7 linked regions of the Homo sapiens genome follow. The protein of the gene in region 7 purifies or fractionates together with the protein of the main gene of each other region. This does not show direct contact. Each region holds a gene or a part of one and is shown on either strand. Other genes may lie near its edges.

Region 1 (3,500 bases), on a different chromosome or scaffold from region 7:
GAGTGCAATAGTAAAAAGTTTAGTTAATAGGTACACTGGGTCAGATGCAGTGGCTTACACCTGTAATCCCAACACGTTGAGAGGCCGAGGCAGATGGATCGCTTGAGCCCAGGAGTTTGTGACCAGCCTGGGCAACATGGCAAAACCCTGTTGATACAAAAAAGAGAAAAATTAGCCGGGCATGGCGGTGCGTGCCTGTAGTCCCAGCTACTAGGGAGACTAAGGTGGGAGAGTCGCTTGAGCCTGGGAGGTTGAGGCTGCAGTGAGCTGTGATACTACAACCTGAGCATCAGAGTGAGACCGTGTCTTAAAACAAACAAACAAAAAACATAGGTACAGTGATGTTAAGGCAGTGTGAATTAACGTTGCATATACTTAGCTCTGTAATGAACAGTGAGTTTATTAAATAGCCAATTAACCCAACTATTCTAAAGCAGGTACTACAGATTGAAGCTTTGAAGTTCTATGACTTTGACTTTTATTAAGGAAATGCAGAGCTGAGGCTAACATCTCTTTTTTTTTTTTTTTTTTTTTTTTTGAGACAGAGTCTCACACTGTTACCCAGGCTGGAGTGCAGTGGCATGATCTCGGCTCACTGCAACTTCGGATTCCCGGGTTCAAGTGATTCTCCTGCCTGAGCCTCCCGAGTAGCTGGGACTAACCCAACTATTCTAAAGAAAGTACTACAGATTGAACCTTTGAAGTTCTACAGCTTTTACTAAGGAAATGCAGAGCTCTAACATCTCTATTTTTTTTGTTTTTTTTTTAAATTGTTGTTGTTTGTTTTTTGAGATGGAGTCTCACTCTTCACCCAGGCTTGGAGTGCAGTGGCATGATCTCAGGTCACTGCAACCTCCGCCTCCCAGGTTCAAGTGATTCTTCTCCCTCAGCCTCCTGAGTAGCTGAGACTACAGGTGTACACCACAGCGCCTGGCTAACTTTTGTGTTTTTAGTAGAGATGGGGTTTCACCATGTTGGCCAGGCTGGTCTCGGACTCCTGACCTCAGGTGATCCCTGCCTCAGCCTACCAAAGTGCTGGGATTACAGGCATGAGCCACTGTACCCAGCCCTAACGTCTCTTAATATTTATCCCAAATAACTGGGTTTTAAGTGTTCTTCACACATAATGAATGTAGTCATAAGTACTACCAGATGTCTTTGTTCATTCAACTTTTATTATTATTATTATTATTATTGAGCCAAGGTCTTACTCTGTCACCCAGACTGGAGTGCCGTGGTGCAATTCTAGCTCACTGTAGCCTGGAACTCCTGGACACTGGCAGTCCTCCCATCTCAGTCTTCCAAGTAGCTGGGACTACGGGCATGTGCCACAGTGACCAGCTAATTTTTTATCTTTTGTGTGTGTGGGTTTTTTCTTTCTTTTTTTTTTTTTTTTTTTCTTTTTTTTGAGAAGGAGTCTTGCTCTGTCGCCCAGGCTGGAGTGCAGTGGCACAATCTCGGCTCACTGCAATCTCCGCCTCCCAGGTTCAAGTGATTCTTCTGCCTCAGCCTCCCAAGTATCTGGGATTACAGGCGCGCACCACCACACCCGGCTAATTTTTGTATTTTTAGTAGAGACGGGGTTTCACCATACTGGCCAGGCTGGTCTCGAACTCCTGACCTTGTGATCTATCCGCCTCGGCCTCCCAAAGTGCTGAGATACAGGCGTGAGCCACCATGCCTGGCCCTTTTGTGTTTTTTTTTAAATTATTATTTTTTTTTCTTGAGGCAGGCTCTGCTCTGTCACCTAGGCTGGAATGCAGTGGCTCGATTTCAGGTTACTGCATCCAAAACCTTCTGGGCTCAAGCAGTCCTCCCAGTCTCAGCTTCCCAAGTAGCTGGGACTACAGGCGCATGCCACCATTCCCAGCTGATTTTTAATTTTTTTTTTTTAGAGACAACGTCTGTATTGCCCAGGCTGGTCTTGAACTCCTGGGCTCGAGTGAACCTCCTACCTTAGCCTCCCAAAGTGCTGGGATTACAGGTGTGAGCCACCACACCTGGCCTGTTTTTAAATTTTAATTTATTTACTTTTGGTAAAGACCAAGTCTAATGTTGACTAGGCTAGTTTTGAATTTCTAGCTTCAAGGGATCCTCCCACCTCTGCCTCCCAAAGTGCTGGGGTTGCAGGCATGAGCTACTACACCAAATGGGAAAGTATTTTTTTAAAGATGCCTATGAACGGAGACTCCTGAAGGTTGTTGACTTCACGGTAGCATTTTCAGCCTAGCTAGTGTTATCGTGGGTTAAGAAAGATAAATTCATTAGCAATATAACTTTACTAAGGATAACCTGATTGTGATATTGTTTTATTTCCATATCATATTTGCATGTAAAAATACCAGCAGATTTGCATAAGGCTTTTTATCATTAAGAAAAATGGGCCGGGTGCGGTGGGTCACGCCTGCCATCCCAGCACTTTGGGAGGCTGAGGCGGGCAGATCATCTGAGATCAGGAGCTCGAGACCAGCCTGACCAACATGGTGAAACCCCATCTCTACTAAAAATACAAAATTAGCTGGGCATGGTGGCGCATGCCTGTAATCCCAGCTACTCAGGAAGGTGAGGCAGGAGAATCGCTTGAACCAAGGAGGCGGAGGTTGCAGCGAGCTGAGATCGTGCCACCGCACTCCAGCCTGGGCAACAGAGCAAGACTCCGTCTCAAAAAAAGAAAAAAAAAATTTAATATTAATGGATATTCTGGTTCCCTAAGTATGAGTGTGTTACACTGCACTGAATTCTTTCAGCTGACTGAAAGATTTCCTTGCAGCTGACTGACAATTGACAAGTCTGGTATTGTTCTTGGTGTTCCCATAAAAATATTTTCCCGATAAGTGTGAATGCATCCTCTTTGTTTCAATCTTCCGGATTTATCCTAGTTGTTGTAGGTTGGGACTGTTACTTGCCAAGTTGAAAGCTCTTCAATTCTTAGACAAGGTTAGACCTTAATGTAGAAGTTGCATGACTGTCATTCCCTACTCATTGTTAATAGTTCATTAGCACAGAGATCTAGATACTTAAGTGGTCTTTTTTTTTTATATTGAGGAATTTTTGTATAAAATGTCATTGAGTCTCAGATGAGATTTTTGGGGAAGAGGGGGTGTTAGTGATCAGGTAAACTTGGGTGACTGCATGGGTTTTTATCTTTGAATATTTAATTATATTCTTCTGTACTAGTTTTCCTTACATTAAAAATATGACAGTCTTAGAAGCATACTTTTATTCTCCTAGGTGATGGTCTAAATTTGCTTCTGTGGGTCTGGAAGCTATTAGAATGTCATGTTATTCAGCAGTATTTTTCCCCTTGTGTTTTCCCTTAATAGAAGGAAAAAAAAAGTACTTTAATAGAGATAGAGTTTAAGATTACAGTTAATTTTCCTGACTCTTTCGAGAACAGTAACAACAAAAGCCTTCTCTTGGTAAACTGATCTTTGACTAACTGTTCCTTAGTCTCTTTATTCTATCCTTCTAAGTTCCTGATGGTGGCAGGAGGGGATGGG
Region 2 (3,500 bases), on a different chromosome or scaffold from region 7:
CTACTGTTTTAAGCCACGAAGCTTGTGGTACTTCAGTATGGAGCCCTAGCAAACTAACACAAACCCTTTCATCTCGTCCACTAGGTTATGCTAGAGCACATCCCAGACAGCAAAATCATTTCATCTGTAAAAACATCAAAACCGCTCTTAGCACATCCATCAAAATTAACACCACTGCTTGCAGTTACTTTTGCCCCTAGAATACCTACACTAATAAGTCAAACTGCTGCAATGTAAAGGCAATTCAAATAATTCTTTTTGTGGCTAAGCCACCAACCTGGAACACAATTAGGGTTGTTTCATTCTGCTTTCAATATGTAGGGGGTACTTTCTCATTTTTGTTTAATTTTGTCTTATAATTTTATAAACCATTTTTATAGTTCTGAAGTCAAAATTTTGAGACCTCAAAAAGTCATAGATTCTACCCCTGTTCCATCCTTTTTCTTCCTTCACCTTAGAGATAACCATTTTTATTGATCTCCTTTTTTTTCTTTTGCTTTTATCTTTCTAAAAAAAATAATTGCACTGCTTAATGACTGGGATATGTTCTGAGATACGCGTTGTTGGCGATGTTGTGCAGTCATCAGAGTGTGTTACACAAATCTAGATGGTATAGGCTACTACACACCTAGGCTATACCCCTATACAGCATGTTACTTAGCTGAATACTGTAGGCTACTGTAACACAATTGTAAGTATTTGTGCATCTCAACATATTAAAACATAGAAAAGGGACAGGAAAAATGCAGTATTATCATCTATGGGAGCATCATCATATATGTAGGCTATCATTGACTGAAACATTATGTGCTCCATGACAGTGTAAGTAAATACACACACACTTTTCTTGGTATTCCCACCCACCTTTCTTAGATAACAGTACTAACTGTGCTGTTCTGCACTTATTCTCACATTCTGGAGATCACTCCATAGTAGAAGTTACAGAGGTCCTCCTCATTCCACTTTACAGCTGTGTGGACGTACCACAGTTTATCATCCTTGGAGTGCCTTAGCTTTAGTTCTAGGCCCCCAGTTCTTCTCACTCTGCATCTTTCCACAGGCAACTTCAATCATAGACTCATCCTCTAAGCAAGATATCTCCCATACTCGACTCCCCCTTACAGACGACCTACTCAAAAGAGCAGTTCAGATGCCTCAAAGTCAACACACCTAAAACCACACTCACGATTCTTCCCTCCGACCTGGTCAACCCCTTGTCTCTGTAAATGGCACCACCTCTGAATCAAAACCTTAAGAGTTATCCTTAATAATTCTCCCTCCCTCAGCCCCCTCATCTAATCAATTACCAAGACCTGTTTATTCTGCCATCTAAATCTGCCTCACATTCGTCTACTTTTCCCCATCTACTGCTACCATTCCATCATGAGCCTTGCCTCCAATGTCACCTGCCTCTCCTGATTTTCCTTACAGTACGCTTTTACCTGTCTTCCCTATGGGTTCATTTCTCTCTGCCTGGCTTCCTGAAATGCTGGAGTTCCTCAAGATTCAGTCTTAGGCTCTTTCTTACTCTTACTGTAATGTGAACACTCTCCCTAGGCCAACTCATCCTCTCCCATTATTTCAATCACCCTATATTGATCAGGTTCTCCCAAATTTACATTTCAAGCTCAGTCTACATTTTGAGGTACTGTACTCCGAAATCAACACTACTTGTCATCGCCACTGGGATAACTAGGTCAACCAAAAACAGCTCAATTAATCTAAAACCAAATTTACATCATCTCCAAATCTGATCTCCTTCTAGTGTTCCTATCTCACTGAATGACATCACCAACCGTCACAGAACAAACCAGAAACCAAGCAAGCATCCCTGACAACCCCATCTCCCTTTTGTTTGCTTTTATTTTCTTTGTTACCCCATCTCCTCTATCTTCCATGTCTAACAGTCCTGCTGGCTGTATCTCCTGGACATCCCTGGGACTGGTTCACTTCTTTCTGTCTCCAACACCACTAACCTAGTCCAAGTCACTCGTGCATTCATTATACAACTGGACGCATACCCTGGCCAGGGACTGTTTTAGGTTCTTGGAAAACAGGAGTGAATGAAACAGGCAACCCCTCCCACAGCAGCTTACAATGCAGAGGCAGAGACAGATCATGAAGAAACAGATCTATTACACAGCGCTAAGCACGAGGAGGGAAAATAAAGCACGGTGAGGAGATGGCGTGGGGGCTGCAGGGCTGCGTGTCAGATGATCTGTGCCTGTGTGAGCCGAAGCCTGTGCAGCACAAGGAAGTGAGCGAGCCACATGGACGCATGACCGCCACGAAGAACAGTCCCAGACAGAAAAAGCAGGGCAGAGGCCCTGAGTGGGGGCCTGCTTGGCGCCCCCCATGACACACTGCAGGGCGGCCAAGGGTGATCAGAGGCCTCGAATGAAGGGCAGAGTGGAAGGAGCTGAGAGTGAAGAGGTAGCCAGGGCCAGACCACGTAGTGTATTTCTCCCAAAGGAGAGTTAAAAAGATAAACAAGTGTGGTTCCCATATAAAAAAATCTCACCTTTCTTCAGGGAGGAGAAAGCTCTCCCCAGCACAGGGGCTGTGGGGACCGAGGCTGCCTGCCCTGCAGCTCCTTGCTGGGCCCATGGCATAAGGGGCCATCACTGAGCCCTCTGGACCTGACAAGCCCTGCACTGTGGCCGTCAGGTTCTCCACATGGGCTGGCGGCTGCAGAAAGCAGCCTAGGCCTGCCCTGGGCTACTTACGGCTCCTCAGAACCTGTGCCTGGCTCTCAAGCACCAACCAAACCCTGTGACAGGGCCCGTGGCTCTCTCTCGGGTGCTCCACCTTCTCCTCGCTGGCTTTGCTTCTCTGGACCTTCATGAACACCTTTCTTTAGGCCTGAGCAATTCTTCAGTCCTTTGATCCCAGGCCCTTCCACAGGGAAGCCTTTGCTGACGCCACCTGCCTGCTCTGCACTCTCACAGCACCGAGTGTCTTTCCCACGTGGTCCTCACTGGAATGTGTCCTTCTGTGCCTTGTGTGCAATGAGTGTGTTCACCTTGTCCCCCACTAGATCGTGCACTCCAGAAGCAGGAGACCTGTGTCCCTTTCTGCCCAATGCTATACAAAGCTGTGGGCGAGGGTTCAACCTTGATCCCCCAGAGCCAGAGCCCCCCCAGTTCAACCACTCTCAGTCCCCCACTGCCACGATGGCCCCTCCCCGTTTCTCTACTCTGATTACTTCTCGGGCTCTGTCAGATTCCTCCTGCTTAAGCACCTCGCAAATGCTGTTTCCTGAAATTCGGGCCTCCACTTGGCCCCCTCACCTGGCCAGCTCCAAGCTTCTAATGCCCATCATGCTAATGGGCTCCCTGACCTCCCTTGAGTCTCGGCCCTGTCACTTACACACCTGCCCACCAGGGTTCCCCACCTGACGACTTCACTCACATCTCAAGTGAAATCCATCCCACACCCAACTGCTCCTGTACCCTGATCACGTGGGCGCCGCCTCCTCCCTCACGAACTCACGGCAAGTG
Region 3 (3,500 bases), about 48 Mb from region 7:
GAATACAGCCCGGAGTTTAGAGAATGCATCACCGTGGTCTGGGATAACTCAGGCAGGCTCCCTCCAGGGCTGAAGCTGAACTGGCAGGGTGAGTGAGATTTGGGTTCAGGCCTGGTGTTGGCTTGGCTTATGCTGCCGCCTCAGGTGACAGGGCAGGTGTTGGGTGCTGTCATCTGCCACCTTGATTGTGTTTTTTGGAAGGCAGCAGAGAAGAGTTTGGAGTCACCAGCAAGGAGTTGCTGGCAAGTTCTAGGCCTCCCCCTGGAGCCCTGACTCCTCTTCATTGCAGGTGGGCGCTACATCGAGGTGTTCAGGGAAAAGAACGTCCCCACCACCAAGGGTGCACCAAAGAATACCACCAAATCCTGGCAAGGCCGGATACTCGGGGAGAACGAAGAGGAGGAGGACCTGGCCGAATCCGGAAGGCTCTTTGTACGGAACCTGCCCTACACCAGCACCGAGGAGGATCTGGAGAAGCTCTTCTCCAAATATGGTAGGGGTGTGGCCTCCGGGCCGTGGATAGCCCAGCGGCTATGGGAGCCGGGCTCTCACTCTGACGTCCTGGGTTCAAGTCCCAGTGTGCACACGACTCCACATCTCTTGCCTCAGTTTTCTCATCTGTAAAATGGGACCAAGTACCCCTGAGCTGCTGTGAGGATTCAGTGACATGATGAATGCAGGGATTCGCAGGGCAGGAAGTAAAAGGTATTAATAGCATCACTGGCATCCTTTGCTGTCTGAACTCTCTAACTTCTCCAAATTCAGAATTGAAGCAATTCGGATGACTTTTTTGAGATACTCCCTTGCTGTCCAAAGTCATGCCACTCGGTATTGGAATTGAGTAACTGTACAGGTTTCACCTGATGAATATACCTACACGGCGTTCCTCCGTATCTGAACTCTTAATTATGTAAAGTCTTCTTATCCAAGCTGAGCACCAAATAGATTTGATAGTGTCAAGGTTAGTGTTGTTGTTGCTGTTATTTCTCAGGCCATGGGCTTGAGGGCCTGTAGTCCAGCTTGGTCACAACAGGCTGTGTTTGTTTGTGGAGTTACCATTGTTGAAGGGCAGGAAGGGAGGGTTCAGGATGAGGGGAGGTCTTGATACCTTTGAGATCCCCGCAGTGTCTCCCCATGTCTATTCAGAGGCCAGCTGTAGGTTGTGGAGGATTGGAGATGTAGGTTGAACACCTGATGTGGGCCCCGTTGTCAGGGTAAGGATGCCCTGAGTGGAGCATGCCATCAGGAAAATTGACCTGACCTCCAAGCCTGGGGCCTGCCCCAGTGGAACTGTGTGTTCCATTCACCAGTCTGCTCACCATATCCTTCACACAGGCTGGCATCCCGGCTTACACCTCATGGGTGGGCTGAGGGGGAGAAGCATTTGTCGATATATTGCAAATGTCCATTTGGGAAGGAAAGACCCAGAGAGGGGACGCGGTCACACCCTGGCATTCAGAGTTGAAACCAATGCAGAAAGGGTGTGCTTTAATTTGAGCATGATGCTAATATCATCATGGAAGACACTTCTTTGGCACTAACTCTAGCAGGCACTGTTTAGTGCACTATGCACGCATGAACGCATTTAGCCCATGAGCTAGGTACTGTTGTGCTGTTTTACAGATGAAAAGACTGAGGCATGGGGAGGCTTAGTGATTTGCTCAAGGCAAGCTTCATGTGTAATAGGTGGTGGTGCTGGGCTCCAGCCCAGGTATTGTTGCTGTTAGGATAGACACACGTAGGGGACTGGGAAATGACACCCATGACCTGTGAGGTTGGCTCACAGCTGGTGCTCACCACATTCTTCCCTGGGGCCAAGTGGCTGCGGCCTACCAGAGACCGACACTTCTCCTGTCCTCAGGTCCCCTGTCTGAGCTCCACTACCCCATCGACAGCCTGACCAAGAAACCCAAGGGTTTTGCATTCATCACCTTCATGTTCCCTGAGCACGCTGTGAAGGCCTACTCGGAGGTGGACGGGCAGGTATTCCAGGTGAGGCCCCGTCCTGGGCTGGCCAGGAGGCTGTGGGGCTCACATGGTCGGGAAAGGCTGGTGTGTGTGTGTGTGTATGTGTGTGGACACGGGCGTCCACTTTGTGGGCCTAAGAAAATGTGCAATGGCATGCTAAGTCACTGCCTCACTCAAGCCACTGGAGAGTAAGAAGTCGTGTGAGGGCACGGTCTGATCTGTTCTGGTCACTGATCTGTGGCACCTACACCTCTGTCTGGCACTTAGCAGGCACTGAAAAAATACTCCTTGAATGGATGAATTTGCTCTCCATCTCTATAGATACCACCTTAGAAGAGGAGTAAGAAGAAAAGAATTTTGACAGGGACCTATTAAAATGGCCACAGTGGAATAAAAGAAACTTCTCTTTTCCCAGTGTTACCAAGTAATATACTTAGCATACATCCTCAAGCCCCAGGCTGCCTCATCATCACCCTTTTTCCTTTTCTCATTCATTCATTGATTTATTCATGATTTCTTGATCCCCTTGTTGCCATCAGGCCAGACCTGGCCCCACCGGCATGGACCTCACATTCTTACTCACTGGTGCAGGGACAGGATGCGATGCAGGCTTGAGAGGCGGGGAGAGGGCTGCGGGTGCGGGGTTATACACTGATCGAAGTTTTGTGTGTGTAGCTGTGTCAGGTGGCCCCCTCACGACATCAGGATCCTGTGTCAGGTGGGAAGAGAGTGGCCACGTTCTACCTGACCTCCCTCCCACCCTCTGGTCAGGGTTTCAGTGCTGGGTCCAGCTTACTCGTGGCAGAAGCCAACATCCTTCGGCAGGAAGCAGGGCTTACAGGCAAGGCTTCTGTTTACTCCCTTCCCGTCATTCCCATCCAGGGCAGGATGCTCCACGTGTTACCATCTACCATCAAGAAGGAAGCCAGCGAGGATGCCAGTGCCCTGGGATCGTCGTCCTACAAGAAGAAGAAGGAGGCCCAGGACAAAGCCAACAGTGCCAGGTCCTCAGTGCCCCTGAAACCACTGAGCTCCAACCCCAACCCTCTGCCACCCTCACCCTGCCCTTTCTAAGCCACCTGGGTCTTCTGACTCCTGATGGGTTTAGTTCATACCTTACCGAGCTTCAGTTTTCTCATCTGTAAAATGGGAGAATAATAGTAGTGCCTTACTTTTATGGTGCTGTAAGGTTTAAATGAGTGAATGTATGTGAAGTTCTTAGTCCCTGACACAGATGAAGCACTGTTAGGGATGGTTCCTGTCATCATCCGTCTTGTTGTCTTCAGGCCCTGTATACGTAGCCCATGATAGGGAAATTGGGGGCATGTAGATAGGCAGGCCTAGGAGCCCATTTCTTACAGGATTCGTGTCTGAGAACGAGTTCCCCTCATCCAGCTGCGGTCTGATCTCCCTGTTCTGCCTCTGCCTCTTAGCTCTCACAACTGGAACACACTATTCATGGGGCCGAATGCCGTGGCCGATGCCATCGCACAGAAGTACAACGCCACCAAGAGTCAAGTGTTTGACCACGT
Region 4 (3,500 bases), on a different chromosome or scaffold from region 7:
CTGTCACTTTTTTCCAGACATTGTAATGAAAAGCCCAAACTGTTTTAACTCAGTAGGGGAAAAAAATCTCTCCAGTGGTTTAAATACCAGATGGAATTTGGATTTTGTAAGTGAAGGTCTGGTTGGAGATAGGACTGAGAGGGGAATGGCATGCAAATGCTAATGCTGTCCTTCTCTAGAGAGCTGAGTTTCTACAGAGCAGCTGTAAGGCTTACAAAAAACCAGAAAGCGCCAAAGACTGGCTTACTCTTTGGTCACATGTATTTCAATGCCAAATAAACAGGCACTAGTCCAAAACTCTCTTACGAGGATAATCTTCTTCTGCTTATTCTTTCTTCAAACATAGAGATAAATGTCATGCCTTTCTACTGAGGTAATGATACTCAACAATTGGGGCCCCCTACCCCCTCTCACCATCCTCATTAGAATGGCATTTTAAGGCATTGACCAAGCCAGGTTAGAAGCCTGCAGCAGCACAGGAAGGAAAACAGAGAGAGTGAGGGGGCGGTGGGGGGGGCTGGCGGGGGGGGTTTGGAAAAAAGAAAATTAAAAGAGTTCTCAGGCACAAATATTTCTAGGGGAAAAAGCATTACCAGCAACCACTGAATCATTTCTTATTCACAGACACCATTTCTAGACACTTGGCAAACTTCATTTGAGCTTAAATGGCTGGTATAAAGTTCAGGGATGCCAGGAATTACTGGAATTCCACATGAGATACAAGAAAAGGTCAAATTTCATAGCCTACCTTCTCTCCCATTTTCTTTCATCTTTTTATCTTGCTCTATTAACCACTTCAGAACTAGATGTCCTGCAGGATGTTCTGCAATGTGAAGCTATGAAGGGTCAAGAACAGTTAATTTTAAAAGTTGTTTTCATTCATACAAATACATTTGAATGAATACATACTATTTATGCCACCACATACAGATAAGGACTCAGCCACTTTTAAAGTTCCACAGGCTTAAGAGGTCTTTATCTAGGACAACCATCATACTTGGGGGGACCACAGATCTATTCTGATCCCCAGACTGAAAGACAGTTATGCCAGATAACACAGCCACGGCACAGCGCTTCAGTCTCCGCTTCATTTAATCTGCTCTGAACAGTAGCAGCACAAGGCTCATCTTAATGCTAATCACGTCTTGGATTGAAATATGTCATTCTCAGACACAAATAAACCTACAGGACAGAACACTATAGCACAAACATCAAAACCCAATGCTGCATGCTGTTTAAGTACACATGACCACCGAAGGGGATTATCTGATGAGCGAATCAAGAAAGCATCTTTTCAGCTCAACCTTACTCCTCTTCAAGAGCAATACCAAGCGTTCCCAGTTATTTGGGCTACTCCTTAGCAAGTATGGGAGGCAACCGGCTCAGTCTCCTTATAGAGAAACTTTCAAGGTACATTCATCTTTCCCATTTGTTAATATGGTCAGGAGCCAGGGCTTCTCTAAGATCCATGGCCCACTTCTCTTCCCCAATCGCAGGTGTCAGAAGCACCTTGGGCACTCAATACTTGGCAATGATTTCATTCATAAGCAAATTCACATCTGTAAAACATTCCCAAGTACCAGGCTTTGACCCAGATGGTTAGAGAAAATTAAAGATGAATGTAATTGCTGCTGTGAGAGGTTCTTGGTTGTTTATTCAACAGGTATCTCCCTCCCCAGCTTTCTTACTGACACCCCACATCGTCCAAAAACGAAGTTTTTGTGGCCTTTGCAGCTTTCCTGCCTGTGCTTTAATGGCACATTACCTCTCCGTCCTTGCCACCAGGATGCAGTCCTGTTGCTGCCAAGCTGGCGATGGCATTCATGGTAGGCTGAACGTCTCCAGTGGCAGATCCCAGAATGTCAGACACCAACACACACGCAGACTTATCTAGCACCACTTCTTGGGCGTGTTCTTGCAGGTAGCTTAACAAAGCTGGAGAAATGGATTCTAGGAGCTCCCGTCTGCGGACCTCTGTATCTTTCTTACTGTTGAGTATGTTGAACGGGGTATTAAGGTAAGATAAATCGCAAAGGAAATGTGGTGATATTATCACAAAAACCTCTAAGAGCTTATCACAGACTGTATCGCACTCTATTATTATTGTCTATCTTTCTGTTAAGCATGTAGACAATAAGTGATACGAGTATGTGTTCTGTTTTTAAAAATGTTTGTGTCCCACGATCTGAATAGTGCCTGGCACAGAACAAGGGCTCAATAAAGGGAGTCTGACTTGTGTAATACCAAAAAAAAAAAAAAAAAAATCCAAAAACCAAATAACATACCCAGAAAACAACACATTTACACTGCTGTATGGACACCATACTCTAGGGTACTCAAATATGTGGTATCGGTAGCTTTGAAAATAAAGCAAAATAAAAGCCAAACCACGCACTTGAATGCCTACTATGTGCCAGGTGCTCAGGTGTTCTTTTGGCACGACACTTTTATTTCCTTGTCAAGATAAAAACTTTAGAATCTGTCAAAAATATAGGCTTGAAAATGGAATTCACCTTTTCAGCAGTTTTAGAGAGGGTATGGATGGGTAAGTGGACTTCTGGAAGAATGCACTACTCAACATTAACAGAGGAATAAAGAAGTCAAGCCATTCTACTTGGTTTTACCTGTGTGCATTTCCATCTCCTTTTTGCAGAACTTCAATGATTTCTCGTACTGTATGTGCAGGATCTCTGGGGCTTAGTAAGTACAATAGGACCTTCCTTCCATATTTGTCATTTACTATGCTAGGCAATGAACTGATAATTTCCTATAAAATTATAAACAAAAAAAAAGAATCAATATCTGCATTCTCAAAACAAAGTACCACAGGACCTTTCTTCCATATTTGCCATTTACTATGCTAAGCAAGGAACTGATAATTTCCTATAAAATTATAGTATATGTGCTGCCAAAGTGAGCACAATGTCCTATAAAATTATAAACAACAACAAAAAAATGAATTGATATCTACATTCTTAAAATAAAGTATGCCTAGAATTTCAATGGTGAAGAATACATACTTAACTACTATTTTTCCCAGCGTACTTCATGGAAAATGTGGAGCTAGTTCTGAAATTGTGTCATTAAAGCACACAGAGATTTACATTTAGAACACAGAATCAATTCTCTTTTGTGACTAGCATTACTGAACAACTCATTTGTATTAACTGACCAAGCCCAAGGACTTAAAAAATATTTAAAGGTGTTATCTTCATTCATTATGGCCAGTATTTCTTGGGCCACTATTACTAGGGACATCACTTGCTGAGGTCACTGAGTAGAGGCAGTTAACTTGCAGCTGCATTTAAATGTAGCACCGGCATGAATGAAGAACACTTCTATTAGAATTTCCCTGCTGAGATGTATGTGAAAGGAGATAAAGAAACTCTGTTAAATCGAACAAGTGGATAAAGGCTTTTAAAGTTAGGTTGCTTATTCATGGCAAATGAAGGCTGTTTAGCTACCGCAATGAAAAACAAAAACAGAAGAGGAGGGGAAAC
Region 5 (2,930 bases), on a different chromosome or scaffold from region 7:
AAAAACACAAAAGAGATGATTCTTGGAGTTCCAACTTGCTAGAAAGTTGGGAATATGAAGGCAGTTTAGAGAGACAGCAGGCAAACCAACAGACACTGCCAAAGGAAATAAAGGTAACCGAAAAGACAATACCCAGTTGGGAAAAAGGCCCTGTAAATAATGAATTTGGGAAAAGTGTCAATGTGAGTTCAAACCTTGTAACACAAGAACCATCTCCAGAAGAGACCTCTACTAAAAGAAGCATCAAACAGAATTCAAACCCAGTTAAAAAAGAGAAATCTTGTAAGTGCAATGAATGTGGGAAAGCCTTTAGTTATTGTTCAGCTCTTATTCGCCATCAGAGAACACATACTGGAGAAAAACCCTACAAATGTAATGAATGTGAAAAAGCCTTCAGCCGGAGTGAAAACCTTATAAACCATCAAAGAATTCATACTGGAGATAAACCATATAAATGTGATCAGTGTGGAAAAGGCTTCATTGAGGGTCCATCTCTTACTCAACATCAAAGAATTCATACTGGAGAAAAACCATATAAATGTGATGAATGTGGGAAAGCCTTTAGTCAGAGGACCCATCTTGTTCAGCATCAGAGAATTCATACTGGCGAGAAGCCATACACTTGTAATGAGTGTGGAAAAGCCTTTAGCCAGAGAGGCCACTTTATGGAACATCAGAAAATTCATACGGGAGAAAAACCTTTTAAATGTGATGAATGTGATAAAACCTTCACCAGGAGCACACACCTTACTCAACATCAAAAAATTCATACTGGAGAAAAAACCTATAAATGTAATGAATGTGGAAAGGCCTTCAACGGGCCCTCAACTTTTATCCGTCATCATATGATTCATACTGGTGAAAAACCGTACGAATGCAATGAATGTGGGAAAGCCTTCAGCCAGCACTCAAACCTCACTCAGCATCAAAAAACTCATACTGGGGAGAAACCCTATGATTGTGCAGAATGTGGAAAATCTTTTAGTTACTGGTCATCCCTTGCTCAACACCTGAAAATTCATACTGGAGAAAAACCTTACAAATGCAATGAATGTGGAAAGGCCTTCAGTTACTGCTCATCCCTTACTCAACATCGGAGAATTCACACGAGAGAAAAGCCCTTTGAATGCAGTGAATGTGGAAAGGCTTTCAGTTATCTCTCAAACCTTAATCAGCATCAGAAAACTCATACTCAAGAGAAAGCTTATGAATGTAAAGAATGTGGGAAAGCTTTTATTCGGAGTTCATCTCTTGCTAAGCATGAAAGAATTCATACTGGAGAGAAACCCTATCAGTGTCATGAATGTGGGAAAACCTTCAGTTATGGTTCATCCCTTATTCAGCATAGGAAGATCCATACTGGAGAACGACCTTACAAGTGTAATGAGTGTGGGAGAGCATTCAACCAGAACATACACCTTACACAGCATAAGAGAATTCATACAGGAGCCAAGCCTTATGAGTGTGCTGAGTGTGGTAAAGCCTTTCGACATTGTTCATCTCTTGCTCAACATCAAAAAACTCACACAGAAGAAAAACCCTACCAGTGTAATAAATGTGAAAAGACCTTTAGCCAGAGCTCCCATCTAACTCAGCATCAACGAATTCACACTGGGGAGAAGCCCTATAAGTGCAATGAATGTGACAAAGCCTTTAGCCGGAGCACTCATCTGACTGAACATCAGAATACTCATACTGGAGAGAAACCTTATAACTGTAATGAATGCAGAAAGACTTTTAGCCAGAGCACATATCTCATTCAGCACCAGAGAATTCATTCAGGAGAGAAGCCTTTTGGATGTAATGATTGTGGAAAATCCTTCAGATATCGCTCTGCTCTCAACAAACATCAGAGACTGCATCCTGGCATATGACAATTCTAGGAACATCATAAATTTAGGGGAGATATTTACTTTAGTTTGTCCTTTTGTTAAGTACTGAAGAATCAGAGTGGATTTAGAAACTGCCTTGAAATCTTTTAAATTTTCACTATCATGTTATGGAATGGAAAGTACATTGGGCTGAACTAATCCAATTGTTATTAAGCCACTCTGTGACATTAGAAAACTCTACTGTTTTAAGCTTTAGTTTCCTTTATGGAATGAAGGATTTGGAGTAGATTATTTCAAAGGTAGTTTGGAGTTTTATAATCAGTTTTGTATATTTACAATATTTTCTTGAATGGGTTTACTATACATCAGCATTTTGCTGTGTTGCATCTAGAATGTGTATGTTTATGCATGTTTTGCCAATAGAATTTGTGCTTCAGTAACTAGATCGGGGATCTAGTATGCTCCTGGTCTAATGCATTTACATTGTTTAGGTAACTGGTTCCTAATAAAAAGAATTATAAAATACCCTCAAATTAACAATTCAATTGCATATAATAGCCTAACTCAGTAAGAATATTAAAACTTACTATTATTCTTCTTCTAGTCTGTTTTTAATATTCTAGGAGTTTACCACAACTATAGAATTCCACTTCTACAACTTAAACTGGTGTTATTTTACCCTGGTTGCATATTGGAGTCACCTGGTGTCTTAATTTGTGCTGTTATGTTAAATTACAATAGACTAGGTATCTTAAACAATAGAAATTTGTTTAAAGCTGGAAGAGGCTGGGAAGTCCAAGATCAAGGTACTAGCAGATCCAGTGTCAGATGAAGGCCCATTTCCGTTTGCAGACACCTCTCTTCTTCTTGTGTTCCTACATGGTGCTAAGCAGAGACAGAGCAACCTCTCATATCTCTTTATAAGACTACTAATCCCATTGGTGAGGGCTCTACCCTTATGACCTAATCACCTCCCAAAGGCCCCCCTCCTAATACCATCACATTGCAGATTAGGCTTTCAACATAGAAATTTGGAGAGAACATATTAAGTCCATAACACCTGGAGAACCCTATAAAATTATCTTGCCAAGGCCCTAC
Region 6 (3,500 bases), on a different chromosome or scaffold from region 7:
GCACCCCAACCTGGGCAACAAGAGAAAACCTCCAAGACAAAAAAAAAAAAAAAAGAAAAGAAATAGTTAACTAAAAGATCATTAGAAAAACATCCTACCGAAATACAGTGTGAGAAAAGGAATTTTAAGAAATCCCTAAAAGAACACAGCAGATGTATAGCATACAGTCACACAAGCCAGAGGAAAGACTGAATAAGGCAGAAGCAATATTTGAAGAGATAATAGCATAGAATTTTACAAAACTAACAAAAAGCATTAACTCACAATTTCAAAAAGCTCAATAAACCCCACATAGGCAAAGAAAACTACACTGGGCACATCACAGTGAAACTGATGAAAACCAAAGTCAAAGAAAAAATCTGAAAACCGGCCGGGTGCGGTGGCTCATGCCTGTCATCCCAGCACTTTGGGAGGCTGAGGCAGGTGGATCACCTGAGGTCAGGAGTTCCAGACCAGCCTGGCCAACATGGAGAAACTCCGCCTCTACTAAAAATACAAAAATTAGCTGGGTGTGGTGGCGGGAGGCTGAGGCAGGAGAATCGCTTGAATCTGGGAGGCGGAGGTTGTAGTGAGCCGAGATTGTGCCACTGCACTCCAGCCCAGGTGACAGAGTGAGACTCTGTCTCAAAAAAAAATAAAAATAAAAATAAATCTGAAAACCTTGCCAGAGAATGAAAGACAAATTTCTTTCAAAGGAGCAACCACAAGACTGACAACTCACTATGGGTATCAGAAAAACAATGGAATGACATTTTTAAAGAGAAAAATAAAATCACTGCCAATATAGAATTCTATCCTCAGCAAAAATATTTCTCACAAATGAATTTTAAATAAAGATGTTTTCAGACAAAAGCTGAGATAATTCACTATCAGCAGATGTGTACTATAAGAAATACTAAATATTCACTGCCCTGGTACTTCTCGGTGAGCTGAAAGAGGAAAAAAAGAAATACTAAATATTCTTTAGACTGAAGAAAAATGATACTAGATAGTAACATTGAACTAGATGAAGAAATTTAAAAAGCTTTCTTTGGAGAATGATAACACCATGTAGAGCCTCTTCAATTTTTGGTTTTGTTTGTTTGTTTCTGAGACAGAGTCTTGCTCTGTCACTCAGGCTGGAGTGCAGTGGGGCGAGCTTGGCTCACTGCAACCTCTGTCTCCCGGGTTCAAGCGATTCTCCTGCCTCAACCTCCCAAGTAGCTGGGATTACAGGCACGTGCCACCATACCTGGCTAATTTTTGTATTTTTAGTAGAGATGGGGTTTCGCCATGTTGGCCAGGCATGTCTGACCTCAAGTCACCTGCCTCAGCCTCCCAAAGTGCTGAGATGACAGGCATGAGCCACTGCACCTGGCCTCTCTTGAATTTTTTATTATATATTTATACTGAAAATACATTGATGTAGAATATATTCTGGAATAAATTCACAGTCTTTTAGAAATTATTAAATTTCATTCATTTTGTAGACAGCTGTAGGAAGCAAAATGAAGAAAATGTCCTTGAAAAAAAATCCTAACATAGTAAAAGAAGGACGCTATAATATATTTGGACTAAAGAAAAGGGAGTTGAGGAGCAATTTTAACACTGTTCAGGAACATTTAGAGTTCTAACATACACATTCCTTGATATAAAGTTAACAAAGATTTACAGAATACCTTTTTTTACATTTTAATAATTTATTTATTTATTTGTTGTGAGACAGAGTCTTCCTCTGTTGCCCAGGTTGGAGTGCAGTGGTGCAATCATGGCTCACTGCAGCCTTGACCTACTGGGCTCAAGGAGTCCTCACACCTCAGTCCACCCTCTCCCTCCCTCCCAGTAGCTGGAACAGGTGTGTGCCACCACACGTGGCTAATTTTTTTTAGTTTTTGTAGACATGGGGGTCTCACTATGTTGCCCAGGCTGGTCTCTCAAATTCCTGGACTCAAGTGATCTCACCCTGGCCTCCCAGAGTGCTGGGATCACAGGTGTGAGCCACTGCACCTGGCCATAAGACAGTTTTTAAAATGAGAAAAACTGGTGTCAGGGAGGTTAAGCAATGGTCTTATAACAAGTACAAAGCAGAATAGCATTGCCCTGAAAGATGTGGTCCTTCCATCCCTGATACTCCAGGATGATTTGAGACAGTCAAGTATTATACTTTACTTCCACTAGAAGGCAGAAAATGATGTGAATATCCACCTTATTTAAATCAAGCAAGAGAAAAAAACTGGTTCACTAAGGCTGTAATGCATTTAGAAACAATCAATTTAAATTCTTTTTTTTTTTTTTTGAGACAGAGTCTCGCTTTGTCACCCAGGCTGGAGAGCAGTGGCGTGATCTCAGCTCACTGCAACCTCTGCCTCCCAGGTTCAAGCGATTCTCCTGCCTCAGCCTCCCAAGTAGCTGGGATTACAGGCCTGTGCCACCACACCCACCTAATTTTTGTATTTTTAGTAGACACGGGGTTTCGCCATGTTGGCCAGACTGGTCTCGAACTCCTGACCTCAGGTGATCCGCCCCCGCCCTGGCCTCCCAAAGTGCTGGGATTACAGGCGTAAGCCACTGCGCCTGGCCTGAATTTTTAGTAGAGACAGGATTTCACCATATTGCTCAGGATGGTCTTGAACTCCTGACCTCAAGTAATCCACCCGCCTTGGCCTCCCAAAGTGCTGGGATTACAGGCGTGAGCCACTGCACCTGGTCCATATAATTAATTTCTGTTGTGATTCACTATTATTCTAATAGAAATAAACTCCTGGCTAGCAAAATAAATAACTTGAAAATATCTTTTCCCCTGCCCCCAAATTACTATTTAATATGTCTTCTTCAATACTGCCATACTTGGAATTTATTCTTGATAACTTATCTTTTATAAGTAAATTGATTTACATTAACTTTAGTCAACCACCTTTCACAAGGGATTTTATTATATTTCTTTTTTTTTTTTTTTTTTTTTTTTTTGGAGAGACGGAGTCTCACCATGTTGGCCAGGCTAGTCTCAAACTCCTGGCCTCAAGTGATACTCCCACCTCAGCCTCCCAAAGTGCTGAGATTATGGCACCTGGACATTTTATTGTATTTCTTACACATTTAAACATTTTTAAAGTTGAAGATTACAAACTGTTGGGCACATTTAGGAAAATTTTATTTATCTAAAACTCATCACCTTTTTTTTTTTTTTTTTTTGCTTTTTGTTTTGAGACGGAGTCTCGCTCTGTCGCTCAGGCTGGAGTGCAATGGCGTGATCTCAGCTCACTGCAACCTCCGCCTCCCAGGTTCAAGTGATTCTCCTGCCTCAACCTCCTGAGTAGCTGGGATTACAGGTGCGTGGCTACCACACCCAGCTAATTTTTGTATTTTTAGTAGAGGCGGGGTTTCATCATGTTGGTCAGTTTGGTCTTGAACTCCTGACCTCGAGATCTGCCCACCTCAGCCTCTCAAAGTGCTGGGATCATAAGTGTGAGCCACTGCACGCGGCTGAGTATGTATTTTTTTTTACTTTTTTTTTCTGCTCA
Region 7 (3,500 bases):
ATTTAAAAGATAAAAGGACTATGCTATACTTCTCGATTTGTAATCTTTAAAAATAAAGTGCCAAAGATGTGACCATACCCCTGCACTAATTTTGAAATGCTAGTCTAAATTTCCTGCCAATATTTGGAGGTGGGGAGAATCTTGCTGGTAGTGTTCAGGAACTCAGTGCCTTAGAGGGTACTGACAACACTGTGTCAGTAAACTTCTCTTCAGCAGTCGCCTTTCCAGAGGCCATGTGACACTTGAGAACATGATTCCCAAATATGTTTTCTGGTAATGGTGCTTTGATTTTTGATTTTGTTAACTTTCAAGTTAAATCCTGAATGGACAAACTTCATGACTGGACACAATGAAGTGAAAATCCTAACATCAGAGAGGCTCTGGATGAAAGCTCAAAGCTACTATCAACAGAATCAAATTAGAGGTTATCAGCCACAGAAAACATGAACATAACCCTGGCATTGGTCTCTACCTGACAATGCTGCCAAAATGTAAATAAGTGCCAACTGTGTAATATCACGAATGTAGACTTTTTTTTTTTTTTTTTTTGAGATGGAGTTTCGCTCTTCTTGCTCAGGCTGGAGTGCAATGGTGTGGTCTTGACTCACTGCAACCTCTGCCTCCCAGGTTCAAGCGATTCTCCTTCCTCAGCCTCCCAAGTAGCTGGGATTACAGGCACCTGCCACCATGCCCAGCTAACTTTGTATTTTTAGTAGAGACAGGGTTTCACCATGTTGGTCAGGCTGGTCTCAAACTCCTGACCTCAGGTGATCCATCTGCCTCAGCCTCCCAAATTGTTAGAATTTGGTGCCTGGCCCCCTTTTCCAAAAATCATAAAAAATGTCTACATTAGGCCGGGTGTGGTGGCTCACGCATGTAATCCCACCACTTTGGGAGGCTGGGGCAGGTGGATTACTTGAGTCCAGGAGTTTGAGACCAGCCTGGGCAACATGGCGAAACCCTGTCTCTACAAAAATACAAAAATTAGCTGGGCGTGGTGGCACCCACCTGTAGTCCCAGCTACTGGGGAGGCTGAGGTGGGAGAATCGCTTCAGCCTGGGAGGTGGAGGTTGCAGCGGAGCCACACTTGTGCCAATCACTCCAGCCTGGGTGACAGAGTGAGACCCCATCTCAAAAAAAAAAAAAAAAAAAACATAAATAATTCAGCTACTGTATTTAGGCTGATATTGTCAGTGGCTTAACTGGTTGTTTGCAATTTTTTTTATTTTATGAATAAAAATGTACATATTCACTTTTCCCTCACAAATGCTAGTGTTATTCATACCTACACCAAAGGCAACAAAGATCATGAATGACATCTTTCAATTCATATCTTTCTTAGCTGTTAAGAAATTTTAAGCATTTAAAGTTATCTACCAACTTTTCAATAAACTATTGAGAAAAATAAGAAAAGTCTACTATATTTAAACAATTCCAAGAGTTTACTGGCATCAAATTTTATAAGCTTAAATTTTCTGAAACATTTGGGTCATGTCCTCTTTATTACAATACATGTCCATGTATTGTGCCCCAATTTAGCAGTGTGCCTGGCACAAAGTTTGTGACCTCATGACCAAGTGGCCTTATTCTATTTCACATTTTACTTGAGTTCTCCTGGGAAGTTAACATCTTCTTCTAAACAGATACACAGCTCTCAGCCCTATGAGAGCAGAAATCTTATCTTATTCAATCTGTCCCAAGCATCTGGAAAGTCCCTGGCCCACATACTAGGCACTCAGTAAGTATTTGGTTGTTCCAGTTAACATATGAGATGGTTAATCTGATTATAGTGAAATTCAGAGGGAATGCTAAGTTTAGATTGCTTAACTAAAAGTAAAATAAAAATGAATTTAGCAAACTGTAGTAAGACAGATTTAACTAAAAATCATTTCTCAGAAAACTAGTTTCAAAGAGTAGACGCTAAACAGGTTTCTTTGCTGCTGGAACCCTGTAGGACTATTCTAATCCTAAACTAAAATCTTTTGTAAATCTTCAAGTATGTAGCATTTCCCAAATCGATGTGAACACAATTTATTTTTTTTAACCAAGCATCCAGAGGAAACTGATACTGAAGAACACACTCCGGGGAATGCTGCATGATACTATATTAGGCCACACAATATTAACACTAAAGAACATTAAATCAGTTTCCATGAAAAACCTGAAATGTTCTAATTTCCTAAAAAGCATACTGATTTGTATATGTTAATATTCTACCTAAAATTAAGATAAGAAAACATTTAATTGAAATCTGGTCTTCTCTAGGACTAAAAAACCTTAAGCATACATGAAAGAAAAAAAAATCAGACTTGAAGATCTACACACAAAATATCTTTTATTCTGTGGAATCAAAGCTCCACACAAGTACTTTATAAGATCCATTATTTTTTTTTTTTTTGAGACAGAGTCCTACTCCATTGCCCAGGGTGGAGTGCAGTGGGGCAATCTTGGCTCACTGCAACCTCCATCTCCTGGGTTCAAGCAATTATCCTGCCTCAGCCTCCCGAGTAGCTGGAACTACAGGTGCGCGCCCCCATGCCCGGCTAATTTTGTATTTTTAGTAGAGATGGGGTTTCACTGTATTAGCCAGGCTAGTCTCGAACTGACCTCGTGATCCACCTGCCTCGGCCTCCCAAAGTGCTGGGATTACAGGTGTGAGCCACCATGCCCAGCCCTAATGTAGTATTTTTAAATGATATGATTATACAACAACTTTCTTTAAAATCTAAGTTCACAAAAATTTGTCAGTACATCATCTGTTTTATCTCTATTGACTATAATTACCAGTTGTAAGAACAATTCTAACCATATTAATACCTGACAGAACGTTGAGGCCTGATTATAACTGGATATTGGGTAGCATCCAGTTAAAGTATCAGTAGAGCTTGGATGTATCAAAGAAAATATTTTATTCAAGTTCCCAAAACAAACTTGAGGAGTTATGCTGGGTTTGAATTGAAGAAAAAAGGCCAAGTTAAAATAGGAAAACAAATGGTTTTCATTTGGTGGCAGTTGAAATCAAAGTATACATGTGTATACATTCTAATCCGTCATCTATCCCATGTGGCATTTTCCAAGGTTTTAAGAGTCTACCAGGCCAAACCCTTTGCCACTTTCACTGCTTTTGCTTTGCTTTTCCCCTTTCTTTTCTCTCGCTTTGCCTTCAGCCTTTTTCTTTGCCTTTGGTTCATCCATATTGGGTACTGTCCATGCTGGTCTAGAAGAGTCTTTTTGTTTCTCTTAATATCAGTCTCCATTTTCATGTCATCTGCATAAAAAGATGGAAAAACTATTAACACCATGTATGAAAAAAACCACCCTGTGAAAGCATATTAATGCACTGAGAACATCAGAACATTAGAACTGAAGGTAGACCGAAAATAGAGAAGAAAAAAACTTTATAAAGAATGTTGGCATGACTGTCCTTCCTTAGAATAGTAATGTTAAATAGGAAACATTTAGGATGCATGGCTCTGAGTTAGTACATTAGTAGATATATG

Evidence for each region.
Region 1: the proteins of LLPH (region 7) and HP1BP3 purify together in Homo sapiens (affinity purification with mass spectrometry; one large-scale study listed by BioGRID and IntAct). This does not show direct contact.
Region 2: the proteins of LLPH (region 7) and ZNF354A purify together in Homo sapiens (affinity purification with mass spectrometry; one large-scale study listed by BioGRID and IntAct). This does not show direct contact.
Region 3: the proteins of LLPH (region 7) and RBM19 purify together in Homo sapiens (affinity purification with mass spectrometry; one large-scale study listed by BioGRID and IntAct). This does not show direct contact.
Region 4: the proteins of LLPH (region 7) and PUM3 purify together in Homo sapiens (affinity purification with mass spectrometry; one large-scale study listed by BioGRID and IntAct). This does not show direct contact.
Region 5: the proteins of LLPH (region 7) and ZNF184 purify together in Homo sapiens (affinity purification with mass spectrometry; one large-scale study listed by BioGRID and IntAct). This does not show direct contact.
Region 6: the proteins of LLPH (region 7) and SRSF12 purify together in Homo sapiens (affinity purification with mass spectrometry; one large-scale study listed by BioGRID and IntAct). This does not show direct contact.

Annotation. Positions count from the first base shown.
Region 1 is NC_000001.11:20,780,808-20,784,307, reverse strand, and holds part of HP1BP3 (heterochromatin protein 1-binding protein 3), read left to right. Parts: intron 1-3,500. UniProt on the Homo sapiens protein: Component of heterochromatin that maintains heterochromatin integrity during G1/S progression and regulates the duration of G1 phase to critically influence cell proliferative capacity.
Region 2 is NC_000005.10:178,720,660-178,724,159, forward strand, and holds part of ZNF354A (zinc finger protein 354A), read right to left. Parts: intron 1-3,500.
Region 3 is NC_000012.12:113,945,826-113,949,325, reverse strand, and holds part of RBM19 (probable RNA-binding protein 19), read left to right. Parts: intron 1-289; coding exon 290-493; intron 494-1,861; coding exon 1,862-1,992; intron 1,993-2,850; coding exon 2,851-2,972; intron 2,973-3,401; coding exon 3,402-3,498; intron 3,499-3,500. UniProt on the Homo sapiens protein: Plays a role in embryo pre-implantation development.
Region 4 is NC_000009.12:2,809,596-2,813,095, forward strand, and holds part of PUM3 (pumilio homolog 3), read right to left. Parts: intron 2,768-3,500; coding exon 2,625-2,767; intron 1,989-2,624; coding exon 1,766-1,988; intron 837-1,765; coding exon 749-836; intron 1-748. UniProt on the Homo sapiens protein: Inhibits the poly(ADP-ribosyl)ation activity of PARP1 and the degradation of PARP1 by CASP3 following genotoxic stress. Binds to double-stranded RNA or DNA without sequence specificity. Involved in development of the eye and of primordial germ cells.
Region 5 is NC_000006.12:27,450,247-27,453,176, reverse strand, and holds the end of ZNF184 (zinc finger protein 184), read left to right. Parts: coding exon 1-1,874; 3' UTR 1,875-2,430; downstream 2,431-2,930. UniProt on the Homo sapiens protein: May be involved in transcriptional regulation.
Region 6 is NC_000006.12:89,101,072-89,104,571, forward strand, and holds part of SRSF12 (serine/arginine-rich splicing factor 12), read right to left. Parts: intron 1-3,500. UniProt on the Homo sapiens protein: Splicing factor that seems to antagonize SR proteins in pre-mRNA splicing regulation.
Region 7 is NC_000012.12:66,120,751-66,124,250, forward strand, and holds part of LLPH (protein LLP homolog), read right to left. Parts: intron 3,269-3,500; coding exon 3,090-3,268; 3' UTR 1-3,089. UniProt on the Homo sapiens protein: In hippocampal neurons, regulates dendritic and spine growth and synaptic transmission.